Linked DNA regions of Homo sapiens. The protein of the gene in region 6 purifies or fractionates together with the protein of the main gene of each other region. This does not show direct contact. Each region holds a gene or a part of one and is shown on either strand. Other genes may lie near its edges.

What was found.
Region 1: the proteins of HNRNPR (region 6) and KIAA2013 fractionate together in Homo sapiens (co-fractionation; one large-scale study listed by BioGRID). This does not show direct contact.
Region 2: the proteins of HNRNPR (region 6) and SEPTIN9 fractionate together in Homo sapiens (co-fractionation; one large-scale study listed by BioGRID). This does not show direct contact.
Region 3: the proteins of HNRNPR (region 6) and NBEAL2 purify together in Homo sapiens (tandem affinity purification; one large-scale study listed by IntAct). This does not show direct contact.
Region 4: the proteins of HNRNPR (region 6) and SMARCA5 fractionate together in Homo sapiens (co-fractionation; one large-scale study listed by BioGRID). This does not show direct contact.
Region 5: the proteins of HNRNPR (region 6) and CNBP purify together in Homo sapiens (affinity purification with mass spectrometry; 2 studies listed by BioGRID and IntAct, with this or other methods). This does not show direct contact.
Region 7: the proteins of HNRNPR (region 6) and ODF2 purify together in Homo sapiens (co-immunoprecipitation; one large-scale study listed by IntAct). This does not show direct contact.

Annotation. Positions count from the first base shown.
Region 1 is NC_000001.11:11,919,091-11,921,259, reverse strand, and holds the end of KIAA2013 (uncharacterized protein KIAA2013 precursor), read left to right. Parts: intron 1-927; coding exon 928-945; 3' UTR 946-1,669; downstream 1,670-2,169.
Region 2 is NC_000017.11:77,396,499-77,399,998, reverse strand, and holds part of SEPTIN9 (septin-9), read right to left. Parts: intron 3,016-3,500; exon of another isoform or gene 2,945-3,015; intron 1-2,944.
Region 3 is NC_000003.12:47,006,934-47,010,201, reverse strand, and holds the end of NBEAL2 (neurobeachin-like protein 2), read right to left. Parts: intron 3,137-3,268; coding exon 3,047-3,136; intron 2,962-3,046; coding exon 2,852-2,961; intron 2,678-2,851; coding exon 2,505-2,677; intron 2,387-2,504; coding exon 2,292-2,386; intron 2,133-2,291; coding exon 2,016-2,132; intron 1,920-2,015; coding exon 1,761-1,919; intron 1,683-1,760; coding exon 1,534-1,682; intron 1,214-1,533; coding exon 1,078-1,213; intron 984-1,077; coding exon 882-983; 3' UTR 501-881; downstream 1-500. UniProt on the Homo sapiens protein: Probably involved in thrombopoiesis. Plays a role in the development or secretion of alpha-granules, that contain several growth factors important for platelet biogenesis.
Region 4 is NC_000004.12:143,527,202-143,530,701, forward strand, and holds part of SMARCA5 (SWI/SNF-related matrix-associated actin-dependent regulator of chromatin subfamily A member 5), read left to right. Parts: intron 1-666; coding exon 667-822; intron 823-1,381; coding exon 1,382-1,513; intron 1,514-3,256; coding exon 3,257-3,325; intron 3,326-3,500. UniProt on the Homo sapiens protein: ATPase that possesses intrinsic ATP-dependent nucleosome-remodeling activity.
Region 5 is NC_000003.12:129,167,327-129,170,611, forward strand, and holds the end of CNBP (CCHC-type zinc finger nucleic acid binding protein), read right to left. Parts: intron 3,245-3,285; coding exon 3,127-3,244; 3' UTR 501-3,126; downstream 1-500. UniProt on the Homo sapiens protein: Single-stranded DNA-binding protein that preferentially binds to the sterol regulatory element (SRE) sequence 5'-GTGCGGTG-3', and thereby mediates transcriptional repression. Has a role as transactivator of the Myc promoter.
Region 6 is NC_000001.11:23,341,485-23,345,535, forward strand, and holds the start of HNRNPR (heterogeneous nuclear ribonucleoprotein R), read right to left. Parts: upstream 2,801-4,051; 5' UTR 2,727-2,800; exon of another isoform or gene 2,090-2,726; coding exon of another isoform or gene 2,027-2,089; intron 1-2,026. UniProt on the Homo sapiens protein: Component of ribonucleosomes, which are complexes of at least 20 other different heterogeneous nuclear ribonucleoproteins (hnRNP). hnRNP play an important role in processing of precursor mRNA in the nucleus.
Region 7 is NC_000009.12:128,494,006-128,497,505, reverse strand, and holds part of ODF2 (outer dense fiber protein 2), read right to left. Parts: intron 2,997-3,500; coding exon 2,838-2,996; coding exon of another isoform or gene 2,775-2,837; exon of another isoform or gene 2,666-2,774; intron 1,466-2,665; coding exon 1,365-1,465; coding exon of another isoform or gene 1,209-1,364; intron 1-1,208. UniProt on the Homo sapiens protein: Seems to be a major component of sperm tail outer dense fibers (ODF).

The DNA.
Region 1 (2,169 bases), about 11 Mb from region 6:
CAGCATTGCTGTCGCGGGGTGAGGCTGCCTACTGTGCCCTGCCGCCCGGCCTTCTGTGCTTCCTCAGGAGAAAGACCAGCAGGGATTCCAGGGGGAGGCCTTTGTTAGCAGTTGTAGAAGAAAATGTTTCCCAAAGAGCTGAGCTGTTTCCCTTTCTCTTCTCTCCTCCTGTATCCCGTCTCCTCCCCTCTACTCTTCCTCCCCTCCCCTCCCTTCTCTTCTTTTCTCCTTTATCTTCTCTTTTTAAACTGTAGTGACAGTAGAGAGGTATATTAGGCTCTGCGTCTGTGCCCCCAAGTAGTCAGAGAGCCCAGATCCCACCCTGGAGAAATGGGAAGTGTCCCATCACATCCACAGGGATGCCTGCGGCTTCTAGTTTCTGGCCCAAGACCAGGACTTGGAAAAGGAAGCAGAACTTGACCTGAAAGAGCAGAAGAGTGGGAGACAGGGCTGAGTTCCTCAAGTTCGAAGAAAAATCAAAAGTCAGATCAAAAAGGACTGCACAGAGGCCTTCCTTGTGAGCCGCCTCTGAACTAGCTGCACTAGGACAGGTGCCAAATGTGCATCGTGTGGGTTTTGCCGTCTGTTTGGCAGGCGGCTGCTTTTCCCTGCTGCTTGGTGGCTTCTCTGCCCTCGCTCTTGAGTGCACCTTCGGTTCCTCCCACAGTTGGGCAAATGAGCCAAACTACCTTCATGGGGTACTGACCGATCTCTCCTTGACTTAGGCTCAAGCTGGGCCATGCCAGAGTGGAGCCAGTGAACACTCAGCTCCAGAAGGGCCCAGGCCACTGAGTCCGTGGTAATTCTGCAAGGCTGGGTCAGAGCCAGGGTGTGGTGCCACTAGGGTTGTCTCCGTAGCCTATTTCTATAGCTGGCCACTGGGGTTGGCAGTGAACAGTAATCACACTTGTTTTGTGAATTGAACAGGAAGATCCCAGTGTCTGAGTGAACTAACAGTCCTGCTTTCAGCCACCATTTGCACAAGACACCCAGCACTGAAAGTCCCGCTGCCAGGAGCAAGGGATCCTTTGGAAGCACCCGCCCTTTGTGCCTTGTTGGGGGAAACCGGTGACGCAGAAGTGAGTGTGGATACACCAGAGTTTGCATTGGAAGGAATGAGTGTCACGTGGGGAGGGAAGGGGCCAGTGGACCTTTTGTAAGCTTTCCACTCAATAAAATGAACCTGTATGGCAAATACTTGAAATGGAACTCACTCCTTCCACTTTCCCCCTTTCTTCTGTCCCAGGAAATAGATCATCTTTTGAAAAGACTCTTGTCTAGGAAAAGTTGTGTCCTTTTCCTAATTTAACGTGTTCTTTCTTAATGAAGTTTTAATTTATTTTTGTTGAGATTTTGCTAGATGGCTTTTGCATCCCCTGTAGATGGTGAGTGTTGGCGGTGATGTCCATCTCGGCGTTCGGAGGCCCCACGGTCCCGAGGCTGGGCCGGGGCCCCCCAGGGTGGCTGTGCTGCTGCCTGTAGGAGGGTGCGGGTTGTGCTGTCATCCTCGGGTTTGCACGCCCTTTTTTAGGAGCCTGTGGACATCTGTGGTTTTGTACTTTGGGGCTTCAGGGGAGGTGTTTAACTTTCTAGTGATTGATGATTGTCAGGTTTTGAAATACCAAAGCTTTTTTGTTCTGTTTTTAAATAAATATCTTTCAAACTTTCACGACCGGTTTGTGTGTGGTTGAAACCTGGAGACATGCACCACGTCTGCCCTCAGCACTAGATCTGTCAGAAGCAGGACACCCACCCGGCCCTGCTGTCACAATGCTATTCCTTTCTGGTATGTTCTACCTCTCTTCAAAGGAGTCTGCCCAGAAGATGTGTTGTTTGCCACCTTTCTGCTCGCCAGGGGGTTGCTGAGTGGCCCTGCTGAGTGGGTTGCTTCTGGCATTACCCTAGCTCCTTCCCTGCTAAGATGCCCTCTCCCCCACCTGCCCTAAAGAGCCAGGGTTCTCCTGCCCTGGGTTTTGCTGGCTATAGGACGTCAGCAAGACAAACCCTGAGTGGTTCTTCTCCAGGTTGTCTGCTGAAGCCACCATCAGATGCCTCCCCTCTGTGGGGAGGAGAAGGGTCCACTCTGGGGACCAAAAAGGGGCCGAGCCGGGCATGGCAGTCCACCTGCGGGGCTGTCCTCAGCGTCTTGGCGTTTAGACTTTCTCTGCG
Region 2 (3,500 bases), on a different chromosome or scaffold from region 6:
CCACAAACTAAAACTAAAAATAAAATAAAACACCGCAGGGCCAAACAAAATCAAATCCACAGGCTGTATTCGCCTATGGGTCCAGCCATGACCTCTAGCTGATCACGTGGCCGCAGGGCAGCAGGACACTGAGCCCCAGAGTCAGGGGTGTGCCAGGTGTGGGCTCCCGACATGGTGTCCCTCTGTCCCTCTGCACCCTGCATGCAAACTGCTGGCTGTGTTCTGATTCTGCAGAAGCCCCAGGGCCCCAAGGAAAGGTTGAATGTCCACTTCTACCAGCCAGAAAGTCCAGGGTTCAATGCCCAGAACTGAATGTAATGAGATGGGCTTACCAAGCTCATCACATCTACACCCGCTTAAACCTGGGCTGTAAAGAATATTATTACCGCCCCCGTACAGATGGGGAAAGTGAAGTACGGGGTAGACACAGAGCCAGACTGTACATCGGGCTGATGCCAGAAAGTGCAGAGCTCAATGCCTGGGTCCTCGTGCGGTTCCCAGGGCCTCCCGCGGTCCTCTGATCTGCTCCCTGCCTCCTGAGCACTGTCCAAACTGTCCCCACATGGTGTGCCTCTGTCCTATGGGTGCTGTAGAGCAGGGGCCGGCTTCCAGGTGTCCTCAGCATCCTTCCGTGCGGTCAAGTTGGAGAACAGAAACTAGACAGGAGAAGGCCTTGTCCCAGGTCCAACCCAAGAAAACAAATGACCTTCCCTGGGAGATCCGGTGAACCCCCTCCTTGGGAGTCCCCTTGGAGTCACCCCCACCATGGCCAACTCATGATCGAAGACACTGCACCAAAGCAGAGGCTGCCCTGGTGTGAGCTTACGATTGAGTCTACGGTGCGGATGCAATGATTTATTCCAGCCAGGCCCACGTGCACAAGCGGATCATTCTAGAACCGGAGCTGGCCCCTCCCCTAGGGCACTCCTCCTTCCTCCAGTTGTCTGCGTGGCTGGCGCCTCACCACCTTGGCCATCTGCGCAAAATGCACATGTGTGCCGGTCCCCAACCATCCTCTCCTCTCTTTCAATGCTTGGTGTCTTTTCATGGATGGGTCCCTCCCTCCCCACTAGCTGGCCTCTGTGCTTACTGCCTGGCTCTATGATCCCTCTGGGTGTTTCGGTCCAGCACCACTCCCATGCCCACTAGCTCTCAGTAAGCTCTGAGACAGCAGGGGCTGTTCCACCCGCAGGGGCCACCCCACCATCAGGACGGCGCTGCTCAAAGGCGAGTTTGTTCTAGATAACAGCCAGGAGATCTCACAGCCTCCAGAACTGCAAGAGAATACAACTGTGTGCTAGAAGAACAGTGAGAACAGGAGGCGCCCCATTCCGGAGGTGTCCATCTTCCCCAGGAGATGCCCCACTCTGGGGGTGTCCATCTTCCCCAAGGAAACCATGTCCCGGCTGGAATGTCAAGAAGGTGACACCTAAATGAAGAGGTGCCCACCCTGGCTCACGCCATCCCCCCAAACGAGCATGCCACCGCCTCCTCCTCCTCTTGGGAATCCTCCTCAAAGCCAAGCCCACTCCAGCCCCCTTCCCGGGGAGCTGGCCTCCCACACAGTCCACACCACCCCCTCCCCATGTCATCCTGGCCACGTCATGACTGTTGAGATTGGCTACGAGGGGTGTGTTCCGGCTCCCCGGGAACAGAGTTGAATGTTCTCTACTCCATGACACCATGCCTTCACCAGGCCTCAGGCGCTTCTAGAAAACCTACTAAGCCAGGCGTGGTGGCTCACGCCTGTAACCCCAACACTTTGGGAAGCCAAGGTGGACAGATCGCTTGAGCCCAGGAGTTCAAGACAAACCTGGGCAACATGGCAAAGCCCCGACTCCACTAAACAATACAAAAATTGGCCAGGGGTGGTGGCATATGCCTGTAATCCCAGCTACTCGAGAGGCTGAGGTGAGAGGATCACTTGAGGCCAGGAGATCAAGGCTGCAGTGAGCCATGATCACACCACTACACTCCAGCCTGGATGACAGAGTGAGACTCTGTCTCAAAAAAAAAAAACAACCAAAACCTACTAAATGCCAGGCGTGGTGGCTCATGCCTGTAATCCCAGCACTTTGGGAGGCCAAGGCAGGCCCAAGGCAGGCGGATCACCTGAGGTCAGGAGTTCGAAACCAGCCTGGCCAACATGGTAAAACCCTGTCTCTACTAAAAACACAAAAAATTAGCTAGGCATGGGGGTGGGCGCCTGTAATCCCAGCTACTTGGAAGGCTGAGGCAGAAGAATCACTTAAATTCGGGAGGCAGAGGTTGCAGTGAGCCCAGATCGTGCCACAGTACTCCAGCCTGGGCGACAAAGCAAGACTTCATCTCAAAAAAAAGGCTGGATCACAGGATCACAGGATAGGCACAAGCCCTGAGGGAGCTCCCAAGGAGGAGGGACGCACTAGACCTTCACCCCCATTTCAGCCTGTGAAGATTCACTTTCGTCTGAGGTTCTGTAGAGGGTTGACTAGTGACCCCCAAAAAGACATGTCTAATACCTAACCCCAAGAACCCACGAATGTGACCTTATTTGGAAAAAGGGTCTTTGCAGATGTGATTAGGGATCCCGGGATGAGACTATCCTGGATTTGGGATGGGCTCTAAATCCAGTGCTCGGTGTCCTTATAGGAGAAAGGCAGAAGGGGACTTGGGACACAAAGAGACACGGTGGGGAGGGCTACGTGATGAGAGCAGAGACTGCAGATGCTGCCAGAGCCAAGGAGCGCCTGGGCCAACGCAAGCTGGAGGAGGCAAGGAAGGGTCCTCCCCTCGAGCTGTCGGAGGGAGTGTGGTCCTGCCAATACCTTGATGTCAAACTTGTGGCCTCCAGAACCATGAGCGAATCAATCTTTGTTGGGCCACTTGGTTTCCAGTAATTTGTTCCAGCAGCCCCAGGACACTCACAACGAGACCCCTGGGAAGATGAAACCCCTGGCTGCACAGTGGCCCAGGGTGAGGCTAGCTGGTGTGGTCACCCACTCTCCAGCCCAGCCCCAATCCCACCACAACCACATTCGACAAATGGCCCACTGTGGGCCAACGGACACGTGGCCATTCCAGAGCTGCCACATCAGGAGCCCAGAGGAGCGAGAGCTGCCTCCTTCCCCCTTCTTGGAGTCGCACAAAAACCCCAGATGGTTGGAGAAGTCATCGGAGGAATCACATCACTCTAGATTCTTGTTTCATTGCTGGGATATGTGGCAATGAAACAAGATCATCCCTGCCAGGGATGCCTCATGGGCAATTGCCTCCCCACGGAGGACATTGTGAGTTGTACCCAGCCGGGAAACATTAGGAGATGTCTGTCACCAGGCTGGCAGAACAGGGCTCCCCAGCATCTCCTCCCCCATCAGAGTCCTAAGACTGCGCCCTGGGTCCTGCAGTCACACACGGTCGCCCCTCTCTTCCCAATGTGCAGGCCTCCTGGGAAGCCCCCTGCCACCATCCTCACAGTGGAACCGGCATAACCTGCCCAGGGGTAGCAGGTCCTTGTCACT
Region 3 (3,268 bases), on a different chromosome or scaffold from region 6:
TCCACTCAGCAGGGCAGGACCGAGCCCTCCGGGAAGACAACGTGGACTCTCTGGGGTGGTTCTGGCCCCCCACCCCCAACCCCGAGACCACAGCGGCGCCACAGGGCGGCCCAAGAAGTAGGCAAGACAATGAGGTGGCAGGGCCGAGCTGGAGGGGCGCGGCCTCGGGTGTTGTCGCCCCTGCCCGGCGAAGGAATGCAAACGCGCCTGCGGGGCGCCTGGCCGGGTTGCGGTTGTGGACGAATGGCGTGCGAAGGCGACCCCATGAAGAGATCGTGGGGAAACCACAAGCCGGGGCGAGATGTGGGGCAGGGGCTACACTGCCGGGTAAACTGAGGCCCCAGTTCAGCGACGGCCACGCGGAGGGGGGGCGAGTGGGCCCAGAGGGGGTCACGGGCCAGGGGAACGCGAGCCAGGCCAGACTCAGACGGCGACCCTGGGACGGTGGCCATGGCAGGCCGAGACGCTGCGCGCGAACGCACACTCGGAGACGGAGCAGCTACAAAACTAGGCCTGGTTTATTGCCGAGAAGGGAGAACCGGGGCCGCCGTTAGGAATTAAGGCCACAGGCGGCCCTCGTGCTTTGACGAAACAGCGACTTGGAAGCCGGGGAACCCCGCCCCAGACTGTGCAAAAAGTGCTGCTGCGGCCGCAGACGCCAGTGCTGGCCCTCAGGGCGGCCCCTCAGCCGGCGAGGGGCGGGACTTCCGCCCGCCAATCCCTGAGGGGGTAACATCGCCCGCCAATCCCTGAGCTGGGCAGGGTGGGCCCCGCTCACCCCCCTGGGCTGCCCACCCCGGGGTGTTCCCGCCGACTTCTGGGCGGGGCCTCCCGGGCCAGGCCTGCCGGGGGCGGGGCCCGAGCAGCCGGACTGGCCAGGTTCAGCGCGCCTCAGTAGGGTTGTATTCCGTCTCTCCCGAGGACACCTGGGAGATGCGCCGCGAGGACCGCCACAGCTTCCGCGCGAACTGGCTGCTGCGCACCTGGTGGGCGTAAGGGTTGAGTAGGATCAGCTGGGATCGCCGCGCCACGCCCCGCCCCGTTCGAGGGGCCTCCCCACCCCCGCCCCATCCTCACCTCAGAGGGCTGCCCCGCGACCACCACGATGAGCTTGCCATCCTCCAGGCCCACCAGCACGTGGCTGCGCTCCTTGGTCACGGCCACGCTGCGGATGGCCACCTTCATGGGCAAGGGAGGCGCGGCCGGGAGCAGTCTGGAAGGGAGAGGGGATATACACCAACTTGCGACTGCAAGGGGGCTTTGCGACCAGCAGATATCCCTTATCCCATATACCCTCTCTGTCCTCATTTTAAGGATGGTTAAATTGAAATTCTTATACACAAAGAAATCTCCCACAACTGTGGCTAAGCGGAGGCCCAGGGCAAGACCTCCCCATGGGAAGATGAAGGGACAGGTAACAAACCTTGAAATATGTGCCCACAAACATGTATGGTGTGTGGGTTCCTAGGGCCTTTATCCTACACCAATGACCACCACCTTCAGGGGCCATGAACCCATAAATGGGGGGCTTACGTGTTTAGTTGGAGGATGTGCAGGGCGCACTGGGCGGTGCCCAGCAACACAAAGTCCTCTGTCACCGTCAGGGCTGTAGGCTGCTCTGCCAGGGGCAGTGAAGCCCGCAACTTCCCATTGACTGAATACAGGTGCAAGGAGTAGGTGACCTGGAGGAAGCAGGGAGTGTCAGCAAGGACAGGATCCCAACTGCCCCTCCATCTTTGCTGGGCACCCCTTCCCCATACCTGGGCCCCAGGACGTTCCCACGCTGAGCTCTGTACCACAATCTGGCCTTCGGACCCCAATGCCAGGTGGAAAATAGGTCCAGGGAATGTGGCACCCAGAGGCCGTAGTGCCGCTACAAACTGTCCGCGGCGTACAGTGTGTATGATCACAGTTCCATCCTGCAGGAAGGCAACTTAGGGTCCTGGGCAGGAGTCTGGGCTCCAGGGGGATTGCCCAGGAAACTCACCCTCCCCAGGGCACATGCATACACACACCTCAGATCCAGACACAGCCATGTCAAGTTCAGTGCTGATGGCCACACAGCTCACTGCAGCCCCATGCCCATACAGGACCTGCACAGGCTTTGGTGCCAGGCCTACTGACAGACCACCCTGTGGAGGACCAGGGTTGGCTTAGGACTGTCCCCTGAGGCTCAGGAAATGAAGGCCTTGTCCAAGACTAGAGGAGGACAGGACTGGAAGGCCACTGAGGGACGGATGGGCTGCAGGTCTGGGCTACGGGGGCCCCACAGAGCTGCCCACGAGGCACACCTGATGCAGGAGCCGCCACACCATGCACGTGGTGTCCCGGGAGCCTGAGATGAGGTAGATGCCACAGGTGTCCAGTGCAAGGCAGGTTACTACATCTGCATGGGAAGGGGAGGGTACAGGCAGAACGGAGGAGTCACATCCGCCCTGGCCAGCCTCAGAACCCGGCCCCATACCTGTGTGCCTCATTCTCCCCAGCTCCAAGGCTGTTCATACCAAGGTGGCAGCTGAGCTGGCTCAACAGCTTGCCACGGGGTAGTGCAGTCACCCGCAGGCTGCCATCCCAGTGGCCACCGCTGAATAGCAGCTTTCCATCCGGGGCCACTGCCAGTGCTTGTCCACTCACACCACTGCCTGGCACCCACGGGCCACTCAGCAGTCGCTGCGTCCTGACCCAGTGAGGGGGATAGCAAGTGAGGCCAGGCCACATGGAAGAGACCCAGGCCCTCAGGGAGCCTGGCCAGACCTTTCCCCTGCAGCTGGCCTACATTCTGATTAGGGAGGGGAATAATTCCGGGTGCAGGGCATTTGTAGCCCACCCCACCCACAGCCCTCTGTCCTACTTGTGGCTGCCCATGGTGGGGTCTTTGCTGAAGCTGAAGTAGTTGCTTATGTTGCGGTCATAGGGCAACCAGCTGTGGGTGCCCAGCAGCCCACTGGCACTCACAGTCACCTGCAGGCAGGAGGGGGCAGAGGTGGGTTTCTGGCAGAGGCAAGGGGGAGTGGAGCTGAGCTGGGGCTCTGCACAATGCACTTACCAACAGGTCTGGGGAACCCTGGGTGATGAAGGAGTGGGGCTGCCGGTGGGGGACCAGGGCTAGCACCAGGGGTACACCATCACTGACAACCTGCAGGGGCAAGGGCAGGCCTAGCTATGCCTGAGTACTATCAGATTACACTATCTGCTCCCTGAAGCATCATCCCTTCCTTTACTGTCAGTCCCCAGGGGTCATAGAGTAGGTGTCACAGATGCAGAGGTT
Region 4 (3,500 bases), on a different chromosome or scaffold from region 6:
TGGAAATAATGACATTAGTATATAAAGCTCAGATTTGGAAATTTATTCAGACTCTACTGAATAGCTGTGTACTTGTTTTTTATTTCCTCTTCATTTACCTGTGAGTGATAAGTCTATATTTTTCTCTCCCTTTCTAGTTATGTTGGATATTTTAAGTTATCAATTTTTGTTTGTTTGTTTGGGAGCCCAAAGAGTGGTAATTACTTAACCAGTCTTTGCTTCAGTTTCCTTACCTTTAAAATAATACTATTAGGAATGTGTTAATACATTTATAAACCTGAAAGGAATGCAGATGCCTACTACTGCTAACTATCTTTCCACCCTCTTCCTTTCTTTATGTTAAAACCTCCCTCTTTTTTGTCTAAACCTGCCTCCTAAGAATTTCCCGATCTAGTGGAATTGCAGAAAGACATTTTAAGTGTCTATTGAATTTTTCACTGGTTAACTTTGTCAGTTTTTTAAAACTTAATGGTTCTGACATTTAAATGATTAATGACGTTACTTTAGTCTTAGGAAAGCTGGTTCTAAACGTTTGCATAATATAGCTAGCTACTCTACTCCTTTTTAGTATTCCCACCTCTTTTTATATACTAGATTACTTGTCATCAGTAAATGTAATGCGTAGTTTATTTCTACGTGATGTAATTTTTTTCTCTTGTTACACAGGCTGCTTTTGTCAGAGACGTTTTATTACCGGGAGAATGGGATGTATGTGTAACATCTTATGAAATGCTTATTAAAGAGAAGTCTGTGTTCAAAAAATTTAATTGGAGATACTTAGTAATAGATGAAGCTCACAGGATCAAAAATGAAAAATCTAAGGTAATTTGATACTTAGATGTGAAAAGCCTTCATGTAAGAATTTGATTAAAGTACAGATTTTTTTTTCTTTTAACTTTAAGTTATGAGATACATGTGCAGAACGTGCAGGTTTGTTAACATAGGTATGCATGTGCCATGGTGGTTTGCTGCACCCCATCATCTAGGTTTTAAGCCCCGCATGCATTAGGTATTTGTCCTAATGCTCTCCCTCTGCTTTCTCCCCACTCCCCGACAGGTCCTGGCATGTGGTGTTCCCCTCCCTGTGTCCATGTGTTCTCATTGTTCAACTCCCACTTATGAGTGAGAACATGTAGTGTTTGGTTTTCTGTTCCTGTGTTAGTTTACTGAGAATGATGGCTTCCAGCTTCATCCATGTCCTTGCAGAGGATATAAACTCATTCTCTTTTATGGCTGCGTACTATTCGCTGATGTATATGTGCCATATTTTCTTTAACCGGTCTATCATTGTTGGGCATTTGTGTTGGTTCCAGGTCTTTGCTGTTGTAGATAATGCAATATGCAGAATATTCTAATGGTGTATTTGGTTCTTTTCTTTCAGTTGTCAGAAATAGTGAGGGAATTCAAGACTACAAATAGACTATTATTAACTGGAACACCTCTTCAGAACAACTTGCATGAGCTGTGGTCACTTCTTAACTTTCTGTTGCCAGATGTGTTTAATTCAGCAGATGTAAGTATTTCCTGGTGCTTTCTGGTTAATAATAATATTTTGCTTAATGCTATATATTTTTGTAATAAAAGTGGCCTGCCTTTTAGCATGGCTTGAGGTTATTATTAATTTTTTATGCTTTTATTTACATAGTTAGCCTGGTGTTATCTCCTAGGTTGTCTCTGTATAATGGGAATTTACTTTTGTGCCTTTGGTTTCAATCTTATTTCATTATTATTATTATTATTTTATTTTTTTTGAGACGTAGTCTCACTCTGTCACCTATGCTGAAGTGCAGTGGTGTGATCTTGGCTCACTGCAGCCTCCACCTCCGGAATTCAGGTGATTCTTGTGCCTCAGCCTTCCGAATAGCTGAGATCACAGGTGTGTGCCACCATGCCCGGCTAGTTTCTGTGTTTTTTGTAGAGATGAGGTTTTGCCATGTTGTCCAGGCTGGTCTCAAGCTCCTGGCCTCAAGCGATCTGCCTGCCTCAGCCTCCCAAAGTGCTGGGATTACAGGCACGAGCCACCACACCAGGCCTCAGTCTTCTTTAAATCATTGTTTTCTCTATCTGAAATGGCATAAATTGTCACTCCTATTTGGTAAGTCAGGTTGGCCTGACTTTGTTTCAGTGGCTCTAGGTTGACTGGTTATGTTTTTAAGGTGCTGCTCAAGGTATTCCTGAAGTGATTTGTATACCTCACATTGCTTATGTTTTAAGTCCCAAGGATGACTGTCAAATTTAGTGAAATCTGTCTGGCTTTTCTTATATTATAGTCTAACAAACAAATAGAACCTAATCTTTATGGATTATTTATAGTCATAGAAAGGATAGTAATGGTTAATTAGCTATTTGAACTGTTAATAGTAATATAATAACTATGTCAAGAGTTTGTGCTATTAGAAATTGCAGTTTTTTTTGCCTGGACCAGTGTTTATTTTTGAAGCTTTGTTTGCATAGCTGGCGTCTTATGTGTATTGGAGGGATTTGAAGAGCTCCATGTTAGTATATTTTTGTACAATTAAGTTATAAAAAGGTATTAATTAATTTTGTTTTTTTTCTGTTGAAGATTGTTTTGAAAGAATAGATTGTGTTGTAAAAAGATATTTAATCAGACTCCAAAAGCAATTTTAGCTTCGATTTTATGTATTTTGATGTTTTTGAGATAATTCCTGTTTCTCACTACATTGACACTTTCATTTACTTTAAAGCAGTGAATTCTAAGATTATGTTTACTCAAAAACAAAGCACATATATAATACATATGTTCAAGAGATGAGGTTAGGGAAACTGCCCTTGTTGAAATCGTAACCAAATATTAATGAAATGCTGGTAATTTCAATTTCATTTAGTAAGTTTGATTAAAATTGACATTGTTCGTAAACTTGTATTTGAGTAGTGCGAATGGTCTCAGAGAACAAACTATAAAATGTTTTAATTTTCAAGCTTTTATGAAACTTGAAAGATACTTTACAAGAATATTAATTTTCTAATCCTATAGAACTTGCTCTCCAACTTTTTACTGTGAAACTTGTTATTTTGATGTTTTTGAGAAGAATGTTTAGAAGGTAGTGTGATTTCTGAACTACTTGTTTTAAAATTAGTAACAATGACACATGAAAACCAGGATTGGACTAAGTGATTTTTTTTTGTGGGTTACAATTCAAATTACTAATTCTAGAAATCATTTCTATATCTGGTATTATAGGGTATTTGTTAATATTATCTCTGATCTGAGTATATTTTTTGTTTGTTTATCTAGGACTTTGATTCCTGGTTTGATACAAACAACTGCCTTGGGGATCAAAAACTAGTTGAGAGGCTTCATATGGTAAGTATTTTGGAGTAGTGTTAAAGCATATTTATGATGGGAAAAAGGATAAAGGTTTAAATTAGTAGATTATTTTCCTGTTAATAAAAAACACAATGGCTTAAGAATCAGATCTGCTTGAATTCTGACACTTAACTCTTACATCTTACAATCAGTGTAGGGGGTGATGTGTGGT
Region 5 (3,285 bases), on a different chromosome or scaffold from region 6:
GTAAAATACACATTTTCATGTTGCATTTGCTTTCCAGTCATCAAGGTCAATGCAAATAAATTTTATCTTATAAAGGAACACTTTGTAGTCTCCTGTGAATAGGTCCTTAATTATGTTGTTTCAAAAGGTCTCACAAAGCAACTAAAGTACTACAAATTCAGCACAAGGAATGGGTGCATGAAGCAAAGGAGTTCTAAATTTTAACCAACCCACTTTACTTTTTCCCTTCCCAACACACAAAGCTGTGATTAACGCAGGAGAAAGTATTATTAATGAGAACTAAGCTGACCTGAAGAGCCATAACAACATATCCCATTTGCTATGTTTTAGGTTTTCCTACATGAGGCCCAGAATTTGGGGGGAAATAACTCCATGTGCACACCAGCCCCCAAACCTCATTTAACAGTGATGCCTTCAAAAATAAATCTTTCCCCCAACCTAACAGTGATGCCTTCGAAAAAAAGTCTTTCCTTATGCTGTTTCATACATATGGTAGAAAATAAAATTGTCAAGATATTTATTGTGTTAACATGTGAGACATACAATTTGCTCAGTAAAAATAGCACATGAAAAAATATTATAAGCTTATATTCATAAAGAAATGGGTATGTTATTACCTCTTTTTCTTGCTTGCTCAGGACTATTAATTTGACAAGGTTGGAATGTGCACAGCACAGCTGAGACACCACCATTTTAACACTGAATCACTATACCATGAACTGACAGAACCCTGCATGAAGGATGAAAAACTCATACCCAAAGTCAAGAATCACACAGCAGCATGGAGGGGGAAAATGAACTATATGATGCTAACCGCATTTAATTTCGAAGTGGGGGGAAACAGGGCATGGGGAGTGAATAATGGTTGAAGTTCCAGGCTCTAACTGTACATCCTTAAGTAAATTAAGTTTAACTCATCTATTAAAAAGTGAGTTAAAACAGATGAGTTTTAAGGTCCATCTCAACTCTAAATGAGACACTAGCAAAAACAAGGAATCCACCACTTCAGATCCTTATGAAACCCAGGAAAAGGTGGGGCACAGTGGCTCACCTGAGGGCAACAGTTGGAGACCAGCCTGACCAACACAGTGAAACCCCATCTCTACTAAAAATAACAAAAATTAGCTGGGTGTGGTGGCGGACACCTGTAATCCCAGCTATTTGGGAGGCTGAGGCAGGAGAATTACTTGAACGGGGTGTGGGGGTGGGGGGTGGAGGTTGCAGTGAGCTGAGATTGCACCATTGCACTCTAGCCTGGGCAACAGAGCGAGACTGTCTCAAAAAAAAAAAAAAAAAAAAAAAAGGCCCAGGAAAAACACAAAAATAGCAATGGTATTAAAACTGTTCAGAATCGGCCAGACACGGTGGCTCGCACCTGTAACACTAGCACTTTGGGGGGCGGGGCAGGTGGATCACCTGAGGTCAGGAGTTGGAGACCAGCCCGACCAACATGATGAAACCCAGTCTCTACTAAAAATACAAAAAATAGGCCGGGCGCGGTGGCTCACGCCTGTGATCCCAGCACTTTGGGAGGCCAAGGCGGGCGGATCACGAGGTCAGGAGATTGAGACCATCCTGGCTAACACCGTGAAACCCCGTCTTTACTAAAAATACAAAAAAAAAAAATTAGCTGGGCGCGGTGGCGGGTACCTGTAGCCCCAGCTACTCAGGAGGCTGAGGCAGGAGAATGGCACGAACCCAGGAGGCGGAGCTTGCAGTGAGCCGAGATCGCACCACTACACTCCAGCCTGGGCAACAGAGCGACACTCTGTCTCAAAAAAAAATAAAAAAATAAAATAAAAATAAAAATACAAAAAATTAGCGGGGGGTGGTGGCGGGTGCCTGTAATCCCAGCTACTCAGGAGGCTGAGGCAGGAGAATTGCTTGAACCCGGGAGGTGGAGGTTGCAGTGAGCCAAGCCTGCACTCCAGCCTGGGCGACAAGAGTGAGACTCCGTCTCCAAAACAAAACAAAACCACCACCACCAAAAAACCTGTTCAGACTGAACACAGAACTCAAGGGCATTATTATAACAGATTACAAAGTGAATTTTCTATAGCTTTGCAAAAGTATCTAAATCCCATACATCCTTTTAACAGCAATTTTCATTATTGAAGACATGACTTAAGTACAAAAAGAAAAGTCCAAACTGTCAGCTTTCAGTCCTCCACATTCCCCTCTTTAATATGGTATTTTGCACTATATACATTAATGAAAATTTGAAACAAACAAAAAGAACTTTAGTCAAACTCCCCTTCCTCCTCCAGCTTTATTGGAATAGTTTAAAATTACATTTCTATTTTCTAGGACTTCAGTTGCTCTTTCCATCTGACTTTTAAAAACTGATTACAGCAAATGAAACACAGTTGTCTAAGTGATATAGTATACAAAAATAACATCTTGATTTCTGTGAAAATGCATTTCTCTGCAATTCCTGAATAGCTCCAAATTATGCTAACTCTGAGCATTGATGTTTACTCTGGGTTTTAGATTTAGTCTTTGAAAATAATGTGTTCTAAACCTTTGCCATCACCATCTATGTGTCCAACATCAACACTGTGATGAAGTTGTTCCTGTTTAGGCTTTTATTCCGATTTCTCTCGAACAGCCATTAACACGCATGTTTATCTTTTTGTTTACTCCCACTCAACTGTATGTTCTATGTAGGGCCTGATACAGATGTTACTTGATGTTATTTAATAGCTACTGAGGTCAGACAATCCAAGACCATCATTATACTAAAATTAAAGTTATTTATGGAAGTTCATAGACACTTCCAGAATTGGTTTTACCTCCTACATGGGAACATGTTCAAGGAACCCAGGACGGGCTTACTGGTCTGACTCAACTCTTCCCATTCATCAATCCCTATTCACCAGTGGCACGGAAAGGGGGTTCTTTAACAAAGCATTATACATAACACCTCTACCAAACTAAACATAAACTTTTTTTGTAGTTAAATGCAGAAAGTCGGTTTTTTTCCACCCCTTTCCTCCTTTTACACGGCAAGTAAAGCTCACTGGCCTGGGAGTTGCCTCTATCTGCCAACCTTTGGCCAGTGAAGAGGATTCAGAGAAAATAATACAACCATCAATCAGAAAAAGGAGGGGCGACAAAGGAAAATAATTAGGCTGTAGCCTCAATTGTGCATTCCCGTGCAAGGTGCCCTGACTCGCCACAGCGGTAACAGTTGACTTCACTTGTCTTGCTGCAGTTGATGGCTACATGACCAGTTTCACCACACCTAAAAAAGAAATTAAAAGTTTTCACAATGGGCCTCAGAAA
Region 6 (4,051 bases):
TCGGTGTGAAATAAGTGCCCTGTTTTCTCTAGTTCAACATGCTGGTGGTTTGGGTTTTCTCCACCTAACAATACAAAACGAAAACAAAAAAAAACCAACTTGACATTAATTTTTGTTCTAAGATTAATTCGCTATTCCCACAGATTTAAAAGAAAAAATGACCAAGTTTAAAAGCGAAACAATTGTTTTCAGTCCAAATAAAATACTAAGTGAGCTATAGTTTAGGTTGCTTCTTAAAAAAAAAGAGTACATGTTGAAATTTTCATATCAGTAAAATAAAGATGTAAAAACATACTGAAGAATGGACAACTTCTTCCAAATATTTCAAAAACCGTTACCTAATTAGGCTAAACTTCAGCCAGATTTCTCAGATTAACCTATCAAAAATAATTTTGTACATTCAGCCTGTAGGTAATGCTGAAATGGACTGACTCCCTGAAGAGAGAGAGTAAACAATAAACCATACAAGGCCAGTCTGTGTACTGCCTCAAAAGACAGGGAATTAAAGTGCATTTGTCTGTGGTGAAATTACAATGTGATGAAGATAATAGGCAGCAGAACAAGACATTGCAACACATACTAAATAAAAGACATAAAGGTGGATCTCAAGAAAAAGCCTACTTTTCTTGATGAAACTCAAGATACCTAGTCATCTATAAAGAAAATACAAGTCTCCTACAAAGTACTAAGACACATAAGATAACCACACTTCCCGACAGCTTATCGAACATTGTGCAAATGCACCAGGTGCAGTTTTCTGGCTTAAAACAACTTCTTTTCATTTCAAAGTCCACTGATACTTAGTTGAAGTTAACGAAAGAGGGAGGAAGACCAAGAGGGGAAGGAGGTAATAGAGAGTAGGAAGAAGAAGAAAATGCAAAGGATTACTCTGAAAATGAGATAAACATGACTCCTCACAATTACAAAACACTATTAAGACTCGATAGCCCTTAATAGACGCAGACTGTGGTTAAATTCTGGGTGGATGTTTCTCAAGACAAGCTTCAAATTCTGATGAACTAGCAAAAACGGAAACATTCGAAATGTCACACTTTTGATCAAGAAACTGTATTGTGTGAGATGAATACGTTTACTGATTAACACGACCTATTTCTATAAAGATGCATCCTAAAACACAAAATCTCCTTGCGAACATAAGGTTCTGTTTTCCCATGCTCCCCCATCCCCACATACTACCTTAAGATCATCAGAACTCAAAAGTTCTCAGTATCACAAGACCCTTACAGCATTGTACCTAGGAATACTATCAGTCACAGAAAAGAGGCAAATTTTTAACAGAAAAGTTCAATGAACATCTGTTAAGGTGGGGTTTTTAAGTATGTGTAAAGCAAAAAGACAAGTTGTGTATTAAGTACAAGACAGAAATATTTATGCCTACCATTTCATTGCAAAGGCTCTACAAGTTGATACTGAAATTGGTTAAAATTTTCAAAAAAAGTTTGTAAATTTTAACAAAAAAACCGTAAAATAATTAGATTCCAGAAAATAAAACCTTCGGATCAAGGAAAGCCCTCTCTCTTCAAGCCAAATACAAAATGCTCATTTTGAAAAGACTTTTTATGTCATATGAGACCATTTGAAACTCATTCAAATGTGGCATTCAACACAATGCCACACAGCCAAACCATATTTCTGGATGCAGCAAATATACTAACGTGACTGGAGTCATTTGATCTAAACATTTTTGCAAAAAAAAAGGAGACATTTAAAGATTTAAAAGGGCTGCTGGGAGATTCGGGATGTCAGCACTAACTCCTCCCTGACTTTTTCTGAACCTCTCTGTGCAAATTCTTCATATTAAGAGACGGGCTTTAAAAGAACCAACGAAATGAGACTAACGGTTATCTCATGGCTTAGGAGTGTCGAGCTCTCATCCTACGACTGACTCATGAGACATCAATTCAGCCACTTGAGGACTGCAAAAATCTCAAACAGGTAGTGTGAAAGGACTGAACCTTCCAAGAAGCCCTGGGCTTTTTTAAAAATTTGGCAATACGGCCACTACCGTGTAAGAAAAAGGATCGCCTTTCCAATTTGGTGCGCCTCTGACAGTCTCAGAATTATCCATTTCAGGCGCCGCTTGGAGCCTAAGTTCTACGGCCTCTAGTAGTCATTTTTTCCTTCAAATCTCAGCCCGCGGCATGCAGAATGTGGGAGGGGAGGGAGGCTTCCCACACAAATCGGCCTTTCGGTTTCTGCTCACACAAAACTTTTCTCCCGGCTCAGATAACCCTGGGATCTGCACCCCGCCTTCCGCCCCCCACCCCCATCCCCTCAGGCCCGTCCGGATCATCAGCACATCCCTCTCGGGCTAGGCCGGCCGCGGCGGGAGCGAAGCGGCTCCGGCGGGGAGAAGCGGCAGGGCCGCGGGCGCCTCAGGCCCTTCGCGGGATCCGGCCGCATGGAGCAGCGAGCGGAGGCGGGAAAAGCACGGCCGGCCCCAGCAGGCCGCGCGGAGAGCGCCCAGCGGGCCGGACCGCGGGCTAAAGGGGCGGGGGGAGGAAGAGCGAGGGCGAGAAGCGTTTCGGCCGGGCTAGGCCCACAGCCGCGCGGGCGGACTAGACCGAAGCCGCCCCCAGCCCGTCCCCACCCCCACCCCGGGGCCTCGGAGCGCAAACGAAACGGGACCAGGCACGGAGCCCGGGCTGAGTCGGGTCGCATCGGGGCTCCCGGCCCCTCCCCCCACGGGCCGGCGCGAGACTCACCAGGGCAGAGCGGGGGCCGGCAGCCGGGCCCGTGAGAATCAGCGCGAGGCGCTTTGAAAACGACTAGAAATGGCGCGCGCGCCACCCCCTCCCCCCCCTGATGGACTGAGACGCGATCCCGGCAGCACGCGGGGTTTCCCGGAACTGCTTCCAGGGACTCCGAGCTACGGGGCAATCGCTTGGCGAGGCGGCCTGACAGGCAGCTCAGACGACCAGTAGTATCCAGGCAAAACGGACCACGCCGGACGACTCGAGAGCCAATCGATGAAGCTGCCGGCTGAACCAATGAGGGTGCTCAGCGCCCCTGGCTGGGGCGCCTCCGGGGCGGGGGCAGGCACACAAAGGGGTCTGTGGTGGAAGCCCTTGGTGGCTGCAAGGCTTGGGGGCGCTGGGTCCTGGGTGGACGAAGCTCCTCCCTCTTCGTCTGCCGCCGATGCGAGGCCGAAAATCTAGGCCTCGCGCCGCGTGGCCGCCTCCGGAGCCCCGCCCCCTATGGTCAGCACTGGCCCAGCTCCGCCATGGCGCTTGCGTCCCGCCACCGGCCGCCCTTAGCCCCCGAGTCCTCCCTCGCACCCCCGCGGCCGGCGTTCCCCCCAGACACGCCCATAGCCACGCGTTCGGGCCTCTTTCGGTCATCTTTTCGCCTCTAGTGAGCACACGATTTAAGGATGATTTGGCTCGTCATTTTGCTGAGGATTTTGTCTAGATAATCATTCCTTGGAACGATCGGAGAAATGCCTCTTTCCCTCCCTGGCTGCCGTCCACACATCGTTGGTGGCAGACTGTGAGGGAAATCGTTAAAATGACTCAAAAGCAATGTGTAACACAAGTGATAGAGCAGGGAGCTTTTCCCCACAGGGTTTGGAGCTACTTGATATTCATAAAATAAAGCAGCTATATACATCTCTGAAGCCAAAAGAGCCATGCAGGGGAAAGGGGTAATTCCCAAAGGACACTATAATTCGTGTTAGTCCTAAACCTATTTCTCACCTGCCATTCCTACTGATTTGTTCCCTGTCCTTAGTCCAAACCTGTCTCGTCTCATAGAAACCTTCCGAACTCACTTCTGTGGTGCAAGCGCTTTTTTCCCAACCCCAAACTCCAATGCCCCACCCTTAGGAAGTGGAGGAAGTCAAGCAGTGGTCTGCAGATTTCCAGATGCACTCAAGGATGATTAAATTTCTCAGAACCTACAAACCTATATTTAATTATTGAAAACGGGCGGGGCGTGGTAGCTCATGCCTGTAATCCCAGCACTTTGGGAGGCCGAGGCGGGTGTATCGGTCAGAAGTTCGAGACCAGCCTGATCAACATGGTGAAACCCT
Region 7 (3,500 bases), on a different chromosome or scaffold from region 6:
CGCCCGGCTAATTTTATACATATATATATATATATATATATATATATATATATATATATTTTTTTTTTTTTTTTTTTTTTTTAGTAGAGACGGGATTTCACCGTGTTAGCCAGGATGGCCTCGATCTCCTGACCTCGTGATCCGCCCGCCTCGGCCTCCCAAAACGCTGGGATTACAGGCGTGAGACACCACGCCCGGCCTCTTGCCTACCTCTTAGAGATGCTCACAGAAGCTCTCGAGGAAGACAGTCACGGGTCTAAGTCATGCTTTGCCAGGTACCAACAGTGTGATGCTGGGAAAGTCACTTAACTCCTCCCCAAGCTCAGTTTCCTCATATTTAAAACTGGGATAATACCAGCTAACTAATAACATGTTCTAAGCTATACTGAGCGCTTCTCTATGCCAGGTAACATGCTAGGACCTTTACCAGGATTATATCATTGAAGACTCACACCACCACCATGAAAAGATTATTATCAGCCAGGTGTGGTGGCTCCCGCCTGTACTCCCAGCACTCTAGGAGGCCTAGGTGGGTGGATCACTTGAACCCAGGAGTTCAGGACCAGCCTGGGCAACACGGCGAAACCCCATCTCTACAAAAAATACAAAAATTAGCCAGGCATGGTGGCATACGCCTGTAGTCCCAGCTACTTGGGAGGCTGTGGCAGGAGAATTGCTTGAGCCCAGGAGGTCGAGGTTGCAGTGAGCTGAGATTGCACCACTGCACTCCAGCCTGGGTGACAGAGTGACATGATAGATAGATGATAGATAGATAGATAGATAGATAGATAAACTCTACCTTGACCCTTTCCTCAAAAGGAGGAAATTGAGCTTCAAAGGAATTAAATGATTTGCTCAAGATCACAATGCTGGTAAGTGGCAGAGCTGGGCCCCAAGGCCAGGGCTTCTGATTCCCAAAGCCGTACCCTTCACCTCTGACTGCCTCCAACAATCCGTAAATAACAGAGAACGGTCAGATCAGAAAGGTCTTGGGAAGGGTGACTGGCAAGAAAGGGCAGAAAAGAGTGGGGAAGTGCCCCCACCACAGTATACTGGCTGCTCCATTCAAACTGGGCCCTCCTGGCAGGCCTGGACCAGGCATGCCTTTTGGGACAGGTGGTGCCTACAGGTGGGCAGATCCTGATCATGCTGTCATGGAGTGTCTCCCCAGGCTGAGAGGCCCCCTTGCTCTCTCCCACAATGCTTACCACTGAAATGGAAGCAGCTTTTCCTCTGAGGTCTGCCTAGTACCTTCCAGGGCCTCGAGTCCCTCAACACTTCCGCACACTAAGCAAAAAACAGCTAAGTGGCTGAAAGTCTCAGGTCCTAGGAAGAGGACAGAGATGGGACCAAGTGCCTCTAACCTCTCCAGTTCATCCACCTTCAGACTCAGCTGTTTATTTTCCTTCTGGGAAGCCTGATGTTTCTCTCTCGCCATCTCCAGCTTGTCCCCCTGGTGTTCGATCTAAAATGACAGGAACACAGACTGGTTTACAAAGGAATTTCCCGCTAGAGCCCTCCCCTTTCCCTATGACCTGTTGTCCACACCCAGGAAAGGGGCACAGTGCCCTCAGCAGGTGTCCAAGTCTCAACGCACAACCTAGAGGAGAAAGGACAGCAGGGACAGGTTAGGCCCAACTCCAAAGACAAAAGGCTCTCCCCACACTGGGAGAAACCAGGTTTGATGCTAAAGAATGACAAAGATGCTTTCTCGATCAGGGGAGGCCACTCAGAGAGACCCAGCTAGGATCCAGGACAGACATGAGAAGGCAGAAACAGCTGGCAGGGCTAACTGGCCCATACAAACCAACCACAGAGCTTTACCTGTTATGTTGCTGGTACTATTGATCTCAACCTCCTCTTAACTGGGGACAAGTGCAGGCAAGACAACAGGAAATCTGTCAATCCTTTTGAGTTGGCAAGTTTGAGAATTTACCCAGAGGGCTGTTTTATGCAGAAGCCTCAGCTATCAAGGCTCAAAGTCCCTGAGAATGCTCAGGTTCAACGGAGAAGGCAGGCAATGTAAGGTTACAGTACTGAGAATGTGGGCTTGGGAACCAGACAGAGCTGGCTGGGTTCCAATCCCTGCTTACTAGGTACTAGCTCTGTGATGGTGGGGAATTACTTCTCCTCTCTATGCCTTGGGCTGCTTTCTGTAAAATGGGGAAAATAACACATGCACCTCACAGAGTTCCTGATGGAATTAAATGAGAGAATGCAGGAACACAGAAGAGGTGCTCAAAAAATGGTAGCCCCTTTTCTAATTATCACAAGTACACACGTCAAGAGTGGGAAAGGGGCCTTGCCCAAGGTCACGCTGCAAATGAGTGGTATATAATTTCTTGGACACTGCAGGCCGTAGGCATGGTTCCAGTAACCCAGAGACAGACTGCTTCTGGGAGAAAGGGATGCTTGCTTCTTTCAGGACAGAATCTCAGGCAGTGCATCTGTTAAAGAGTCAGGAGAAGCAGCTAAAGCAAGAGAAAAAAAGAAATTCTACGGCTCGGTGTCTGCTGGCATCTCCCAGCTGTGGGTGTGGAGCTGAGGACAGCTGCGGAGCACACAGGCAGAGGCAGCAGTCTTGGGTGGGGGCAACAGCAGGAGGGCCCAGTGACTCCACGCAAGTGACGGCTCCTATAACTACAATCACTTTGTGCAAACACATGGCATTTGGCACACCAGACTTTTATTTCACAGCACTGATGATAGCTCACTCCTTTTAAAAAGCAGCAGCCAAGAAAAAGGAAGTAGTCCTCCCTTGGGGGGCGTGCAGCTCATCTTGGTATGCGGGCCCCTGCTCGGGTCAGTTCGTGGGACCCTTTCTGCCAGTCCCTTACCCGGCTGCGCAGGTCTGATATGATGGCTGTGAGGTCGATGTTCTTCCGCTCATAGCCCTGCAGTTGGTCTTGGCACTCAGCCAGCTTCGCCTCCGTGATCTTCAGGATGTCAGGGAGCTGCTGCAGGTCAGCCAGCTGAGACTGGAACTGCCTTCGTGCCTGAAACAGGAAGGAAAGACCCACAGGAAGGAAAGACCCACAGTTAGGAAAGACCTGGCTCCTAGTGGAGCCAGGCAGAGTCCTTTAGAGTTAGGGCAGGGCTGACACAGTCCCCAGTGGAGGATCCTGCAAAATCCACAGCAGAAGTGTGGCCTACACTCCCCGCTGGCCATTGAGCAGGTGGCTTGCCATTCATTTAGTTATCCCGTAACAATGGCAACCACACAGTAAACACCAAGACCCAGGCATTGTACCAGGGGCTCTCTGCACACTTGCTCATTTAATTCAGACAACCTGTAAAATAGGTGATGCTGTCCCCATACAAGTATAGTAAGCATCAAGAGAGCTAAGTCATTTGCCCAAGGTCATTCAGCTAAAAACTGGTAAACACAGGATTAAAGTCTAGTCTAACTCCAAGCCAGGTGCAGTGGCTCACACCTGTAATCTAGCACTCTGGAAAGCCAAGGGGCGCAGATTATTTGAGGTCAGGAGTTCGACACCACC